Homo sapiens: one gene and its partner. The protein of the gene in region 2 interacts with the protein of the main gene of each other region in a biochemical or structural test. Each region holds a gene or a part of one and is shown on either strand. Other genes may lie near its edges.

What was found.
Region 1: the proteins of HAND2 (region 2) and PHOX2A form a complex in vitro, tested with the Homo sapiens proteins (one study listed by BioGRID).

The regions. Positions count from the first base shown.
Region 1 is NC_000011.10:72,242,646-72,246,551, forward strand, and holds the start of PHOX2A (paired mesoderm homeobox protein 2A), read right to left. Parts: upstream 1,532-3,906; 5' UTR 1,360-1,531; coding exon 1,143-1,359; intron 1-1,142. UniProt on the Homo sapiens protein: May be involved in regulating the specificity of expression of the catecholamine biosynthetic genes. Acts as a transcription activator/factor. Could maintain the noradrenergic phenotype.
Region 2 is NC_000004.12:173,528,632-173,532,537, reverse strand, and holds the start of HAND2 (heart- and neural crest derivatives-expressed protein 2), read left to right. Parts: upstream 1-2,308; 5' UTR 2,309-3,248; coding exon 3,249-3,803; exon of another isoform or gene 3,804-3,906. UniProt on the Homo sapiens protein: Essential for cardiac morphogenesis, particularly for the formation of the right ventricle and of the aortic arch arteries. Required for vascular development and regulation of angiogenesis, possibly through a VEGF signaling pathway.

The DNA of each region.
Region 1 (3,906 bases), on a different chromosome or scaffold from region 2:
CTTCTTCTTCTTCTTCTTCTTTTTTTTTTGAGACCGAGTCTCATTCTGTCACCCAGGCTGGAATGCAATGGCACAGTCTCAGCTCACTGCAACCTCTGCCTCCCAGGTTCAAGCGATTCTCCTGCCTCAGACTCCCAAGTAGCTGGGATTACAGGCGTGGGCCACCATGCCCAGCTAATTTTTTTTTTTTTTTGTATTTTTAATGGAGATGGGGTTTCACCATGTTGGTTAGGCTGGTCTTGAACTCTTGACCTCAAGTGATCCACCCGCCTTGGCCTCCCAAAGTGCTGGGATTACAGGCATGAGCCACCGCGCCTGGCCCTTAGGCCCCAGTCTTCTACTTGGGTCCCCGGCAGTCTTCCCAGGAGGGAAGGCGATAAGATTACATAGGGCAGGCTGGGACTCTAATCAGAGGGCTGAGATGACTGAGAAGCTCAGTGAGGTTGAGGGTTTGGACAGGGACTTGGATCTAAAGTCTTGGGGATGCAGGAGCTGCTTCCGGGTTCTACAGAACTCTAGCTGGGAGAGTCTGGGGGAATGGGGAAATACAAGTGGCTTAAAAACCCGGGCCCCTTTATTGCGGGCTACGGGATCTGGTTTTGGTGGCTACAGAAGGGTTCGGTCCCAGGCAGCGTGGGTCCAAGACAGGGCAGGAGGGGCCTGATGGCCACGCGAGCTCTAGGAAGCTTCCCGTCTGGGCAGCTCAGCTGCCTGGAGAGGTCCTTGCTGGGGGTCATGCATCTCGTGGGGCAGCGGTGATGGGGTGGGGTGATAAGTGGTGATAGGGCTGGGCTGGGAGCCTTTTTCAAAGATCCAGCGCTTGTAGAGGTTTAGTGGTCAGTCTTTGCAGGTGGTGAGGGGAAGGCCTGGTAAGGGGCCCAGAGCTGGATGGGGATATATTTCCTTGACCTGAAGGGCACGAGACAGAGATTTGGCAACGAGAAAAAGGAACAGGAGAGATGAGAGGGTGAGGCTCATTCCTGCGGAGGAGAACCTCGTATTCTGGGGGTCTCTCGGGGCATTGGAGGGTCTGGCCAAGGCAGGAATGGGGGCGGCTGAGGGGGACAGTCGCATTCACTTGGCGAGCGGGCCCAGGGATTCTGCAGGAATTGGAGGGAGGGTTGGGCCGGGGCTGCGCTCACCTGCCGAGTAGGGCGCGGGCTGGTGGTCGCGTAGGGCGCCAAGTGCGCAGTTGGAGGAGCCGAGCGCGGGGCAGGGCGGCCCTGCCGCGGGGAAAGCGGGCCGCAGGGGGCTGTATTGGAAGCCGCCGGGCTGGCTGCAGGCGCCAAAGTCGCCGTAGGCGGACGCCTCCATGGCCGCCACGCACGAGTCGTACGAATTGAGGTAGGAGTAGTCCATCGGCCCGGGGGGCGGGGGCGGGGGCCGGGCCAGGCCGGGTCGGGGTCGGGGTCCGGGTGGAGGTCGGAAGGGAGGTTCGAGCGCCAGGCTCCGAGGACCCGAGGCCAGCTCTGAGCGCCCGAGAGTCCGCCCGCCCCGTCGCGGCCGCACTCAGCCCGGGTGCAACGCAAGTGCAGCCAGCCCGGCCCGCGCGCCTTTTAACGCGCAGGACCCCGCGGAGGGGGGCGGGGCGGGGCGAGCTCCGAAGGGGCGGGGCCTAGGAGGCCCAGACACCGCCCAAAGCCGCCCCGACCCCCACCCCGAAGGGTCCCCGCCGCCGTCTTAGGGCTCAGAGGTGTGGAGCTGGGATGCGCGGGACCCTATCCCCGGAGTCCCTATCCTGCCCCAATCCGGACCAGACCTTCGGTCTCTACACAGCGTCCGAGGCCAGAGGGTCCCGACCCTTTTCCCGGGCCTCCCCACCTGCGGCCCCGCGGAAGGGAGGGGAGGCAGGCCTGGCGGCGCTCGTGTGAAGAAGTTAATTCAATTCGCTCTGATAACCGAGTTATTCCGATCTGGCCCCTCAGCCCCGCCCCCAGCGAGGTCCCATCCCGGCGGAGACTGCGGAGGCGGCCCAGGAAGGGGGATGGAGACCGGGAAGAGACGGAGCCTGGGATGGGGACAGGGAAGGGACGTGGATAGACAGAGGAAACAGAGACCGGGAGAGAAAGGGGCAGAAACAGTGATGGAGACAGGGACAAGAGATACAGGTACACAGAGGGAGACAAGGACGGAACATACACAGCGAAAGACAGGATGGAGCGGGGACAGGGCAGAGACAGGAGATGAGGGTAAGAGAGAGACAGGATGGAGCGGGGACAGGGCAGAGACAGGAGATGAGGTTAAGAGAGAGACAAGAGGAGACAGGGAGACAGGGGGACGAGAAAGAGAGTGAGGGAGGCATGGAGACAGAAGGGGTCGGGATGAGACATGGACGGCAACCAGGACTGCGGTGGAGAGCAAGGGAGGGATGAGACAAAACAGAGGCAGGAATCGTGAGACAGACACATATGCCCAGGGACAGTCTGAGAGAGACAGGGCCAGGGACAGCCACAAGCGCGGGAGCAGAGGCTGAGAGCGGAGAGAAAACGCCTCCGGGGAGCTTAGACACGAGGGCTGGAGCGCAGAGGGGCCCAGGGATGATGCTGGAGGCTCTGGGGTGCGGCCTCCACGGGGCTGCGGAGAGGGAGGGTCGTGGGAGCCAGGTCCCTCTACCCTGACTTGTCCCGAGGCCCACACGACCTTGCACCTTCAGGGCCCGCCTGCCTCTCCCCCCGTTCCCTCAGCTCCATCTGCAGTATGCGACCCTCTCCTGTGACCTTGGGCTCAGGATGCGATGGATGTCAGAAAGGGAACGTACCCCGTGACCTCTTTATTGTTCTTCAGTCTCTTACCCCTGTTCTCCAGGGCCCCCCGCTTTTTTTCTCCAGGGAAACCACCTAGACTCAGTCTGCACCTGGCCCAGACATCCCTGCACAGATTCAGTCACCAGCTCCCTCGTGCTGTGGGACAGCGGGACACATTCAGAATCCTTACCAAGAGAAGGGAACAGATAACTTTTCCGTCGCTCCTGAGCTGGGTTGGGCAGCTCGTCCACTCAACCCCCAGCCTCTTCCACCGATCTTGGCAGGTCTTGTAGATGGGGAGTCCTAGACCCATGGAGAAGCCGCGGGAAGGGCGTGTCTTTGTTTCCAGCTGAAGTCCTTGGGGGTTGATAGAAGGACTCCTGGAATTCTCCCCAAGTTTGTCAGGACAGAGGGGAGTGCGCCTCTCCTCAGGTAATCCTTCCCCCATCATCCGTTCTGGGCTTCCCAGGAGGACTCTCTATCCCCAATCTCCGGAACCACTCCATGCCAGGGGATTTCTTTGAGGTTTCTCAAATTACCTCTTGTCAAATGTTTTTATTGTGGCAAAATACACATAACATAAAATTTACCATCTTAGCCACTTTGAGCTATAGTTCTGTGGTAGTAAATACATTCATATTTATGTATTAATACATCCATCTCCATAACTCTTTGAATCCTGTAAAATCAAAACTCTACCCGTTAAACAACACCTTCCATTTCCCCATCCTACCTGCAAACCGCCATTCCTCTTTCTGTCCCTATGATTTTGTGTTTTTTTTTTTCAGACAGTCTTTCACTCTGTCACTCAGGCTGGAGTACAGCAACGAGATCATGGTGCAGTCTTGCATTCCTTGGCTCAGGCGATCCTCCCGCCTCAGCGTCCTGAGTAGCTGGGACTACACGTGCACACCACCATGCCTAGCTAATTTTTAAATCTTCTGTAGAGATGGGGGTCTCACTATGTTGCCCAGGCTGGTCTCTGTTATTTTGACCAGGGACCTCGTATAAGTGGAATCATACAGTATTTGTCTGTTTACTTACTTATTTTTGAGATACTCTTACTCTGTCACCCAGGCTGCAGTGCAGAGGTGGGATCATAGCTCACTGCTGCCTCAACCTTCTGGGCTCAAGCGATCCTCCCACCTCAGCCTCCCAGAGT
Region 2 (3,906 bases):
GCTTTCAAAAGTGAGGCCACTCACCGCTGGTCTCTGGTGGACAGAGCATCTCAATCCCTAACTCAGCCCTCCTCTGGACTCTTCTTCCTCCCTTCAATTCCCAAAACTCCCTTTGGGTCTTAAAGCAGCCAACCAACTAATTTCCCTGAATTTTTATATGTTCCCAGCCCCAGTGCAATCTTACTTTGTCTACCTGCTCCCAAGGCCTAAATGTGTTTTTATAAACAGACTTTTCAAAAACGTATCAAATGTCAGAGAATTGAACTACCAGTATTTACACATTCGGGGTTTGCCTCCGGGTGAAAATGTAAACAGAACCCCCAACCACACTACCTGCATTCTTTCCTTGAAGAACCAGGTCTTTAAAAGGCTCTCCTTGTGCTAAAAAATTGCAGACCCACGCAAGTTGGGGGTTTAGAGCAGTAGGTCACTATTTTGTTCCGAGCTCAACTGCAAGCCCCTGGCGCTTACCAACGAGCCTAGTTTCAGTTAATCCCTATTCTAGGTTCAATGCTTTAAGACGCTTGTCTGGGGACGTTCAAGGATGTTAACCCCTTTCCTAGAAAAAGAATGGGCCCTGCACCGACTCTAATCCTGGGCTTTTAAGTCCCTGTCTCCTACCGCCCAGCCGCGGCAAACCTGAAATATATATATTTCTCAATCCTGCTGCCCAAGACTCTAGGGCTAGTGGAGGGCAGAGCCCGAGCACAGAGTCAACTGCAACACCGAAGTTGGGCGCCCTCCATTCGCACTGACCTCGCCTTCCTGCCCCAACCACTTTGTCGGCGGTGAGCAAGGAAAGGACTGTCCTTGTGGAGTCCTTCGGGTGGGGATCGCTTTGTGGCCTGCGGCCGGACTCTGCCCGCCTCCAAAGGGCGATGCTCAAGGTGGAGTCTTTGGTCTCCCTTGGGCTAACCTGGCCTGACCAGCGGCGAGCCCCAGGCCGCCCTGTCCCGCGCTGGCGCCGCAGGCCCTCGCCTCCCTCTAATTTACAGCCCGCGGGCTCCTGTTGACACCGTTTTCCACACCGAACTCCTTCGGGTGGAATCTGCATATACACATCAGCCTCCCCTCTCGGCTTGGGGCCAAGCCTGGGGTGATTTCAGCTCCTGCCATTTACCACCCGCCCTCGCCGCACGTGAGCCTTCTCAAGAAGCTCATGCCACACGGGCGCTGCGGCCCGGGTGCCCCGCGGCCCGGTGACTTACAAGTGGAGATCCATTTTCCGTTATAATGCGTTCAAGATCACCAAGGCCAGCAGTCTCAACATCCACGAGCCGTCCTCCCGGCCTGCCTCTTAAACTGGCGTTTAATGGTTCCCCTCCGATAACTAAACCTGCTTTCCACAGATGCCCGCTTTTATGAGGGAGGCAGGAATGCAGAGATATATTTATATGTTTGTTCATAAAAACTGGAAAATAAGCTCTGAACACGCCGTAAAAAATATTCAGTTACTTACCAAACAGGCTAGTTAAACCAGGGGAACACCGATACCAGCCACACTACAGATTCGGGGAATCGAGGTGCCCGCACTTCAAAATCGCCCAAGGTCTTCGTAGGGACTGGTGTCCCTGAAGGATGTGGAAATAACAGCATTTACAATCGGCTTGACATGTTCGCCCGGAGGACTCAGCCGTCATCTCCAAAGTTTGCCGCAATAACGTGAGCCACCCCAAACAGCTCTAACCGGGGTAACTTGGTGGGTAACTCAATAGCCACTGAGACCGGCGTTTCGAGCCTGTAAACGGGTCAAAGAAACACCCTTCTCCAGCCGCTCCTCGTCCCTGCTGGGGCAAAGAGCGCCAGCTCCCAGCCGCGCCTTTGTGGGGGCCCCCACCGCCCGTCACGAGGCTCCCGGCGCCCCTGCATAAAATTGTAAGAGGCTGCCTGCGTATATTTTCTTACCTCGATTACCTACAAAGCACTTCGAAAAGCAATACCTGCGTTTTCTTTCTTTCTTTCTTTTCAACCAGAAAAGAGAGCAGAGTGATACTGTACCTGGTTAGAGATTCTTCAATATTTGAGACTTGGGGGGAAAATATTTTAATAGTGAAGCATCTGTTAAACACTTGCATTATCCTCTGACTGATAAAAAAAGTTTTTTTAACCCTGCCCCCCCCCCCCGCCAAGTTTTAATTATCTTATGGTTATGAGGAGGTAGCCAATCCTGGAAGAGGACCTCGGCAATTAGCAACGTGAACATCAAAAAGTTTTATTGCCGAGAGCTCGAGGCGCCGCCCCTGCCGCCCCGGGATTGGCGTGAGGAGCCTCTGACGACATATATTAACCCGAGCGGCCCTAAAGATGTAGCTGTACATGGAGATCTTGCTGGGAAAATCCGCTTGCTCCCCTCACGTCGTCCAGCCCAGGAGAACCACCGCCGTCACCCCGGAGCTTCCTCGGCCACCGCGCAGAGCCCTCCGAGAGCCCGAGCCGCGGTCTTCGAGCTCCAAGGCTCATTCAGGGCCCCAGATCCTTGCCCCGAAAGGAGAGGATCTGAGAAAATGGATGCACTGAGACCTCTCTGAAAACCCTCCGAGAGAGCGCGAGAGGAGCGAGGACACGTTACTCGCAGCTAAAATCACATTTAAGGACCAAAACAACAACAACCAAAAATTTCATTAAAACAATAAGCGCCCAAGAACCCAGATCGGGCTGGTGGGGGGAGGGGAAGAGGCGGGAAGGGGAGGGTCGCACGGAGGTAGCTTTGCAGTGAGCAGTCGACCCCGCCGCCCCCCGGCACAGCTGGACCGGCTCCTCCAGCCGCGGCTCAGACTCGCCCCTGGATTCCGGGTTAGCTTCGGTGCCAGGACCGCGGCCCGGGCTTGGATTCCCGAGACTCCGCGTACCAGCCTCGCGGGAGCCCCGGCACCTTTGTATGAGCACGAGAGGATTCTGCCTCCGCGCAGCAGCCCGGGAAGCAGGAGCCGAAGCGCGGGCCGTGGAGCAAGGCGGGAACCGGAGGCGGCGGCGGCGGCGGCCAGGGGCGCACGGTGCCAGGACCAGCTCGCCGCGCCCCATGGGGAGCCGGCGGCCGCAGCGCTGCTGAGGCGGGCCCGGCTGGCCAGGCGGGGGGACGGGGCCCGGGCTGCAGCAGCCCCCTCTGCGGCTGCCGGGCGGGCCCGGGCGCCCGGGGGCTGGGGGGTGGGGGGTGGGGGAGGACGCCGAGCGCTGAGGCAGGGGCCCGGGCCGAGGGCGCGGCGGGGCTGCGCGCACGCTGGGGCGCGTGGAGGGGCGCGGAGGGCGAAATGAGTCTGGTAGGTGGTTTTCCCCACCACCCGGTGGTGCACCACGAGGGCTACCCGTTTGCCGCCGCCGCCGCCGCAGCTGCCGCCGCCGCCGCCAGCCGCTGCAGCCATGAGGAGAACCCCTACTTCCATGGCTGGCTCATCGGCCACCCCGAGATGTCGCCCCCCGACTACAGCATGGCCCTGTCCTACAGCCCCGAGTATGCCAGCGGCGCCGCCGGCCTGGACCACTCCCATTACGGGGGGGTGCCGCCGGGCGCCGGGCCCCCGGGCCTGGGGGGGCCGCGCCCGGTGAAGCGCCGAGGCACCGCCAACCGCAAGGAGCGGCGCAGGACTCAGAGCATCAACAGCGCCTTCGCCGAACTGCGCGAGTGCATCCCCAACGTACCCGCCGACACCAAACTCTCCAAAATCAAGACCCTGCGCCTGGCCACCAGCTACATCGCCTACCTCATGGACCTGCTGGCCAAGGACGACCAGAATGGCGAGGCGGAGGCCTTCAAGGCAGAGATCAAGAAGACCGACGTGAAAGAGGAGAAGAGGAAGAAGGAGCTGGTCAGTACCAGGGGGCGGCAGGCGGTGGGGCTGAGGGGGTCAGGGAACTGGTGCTCCCGGCCTCTTTCCAATTGGGCTGAGAAATGGCATCTCGTGTTCTTTG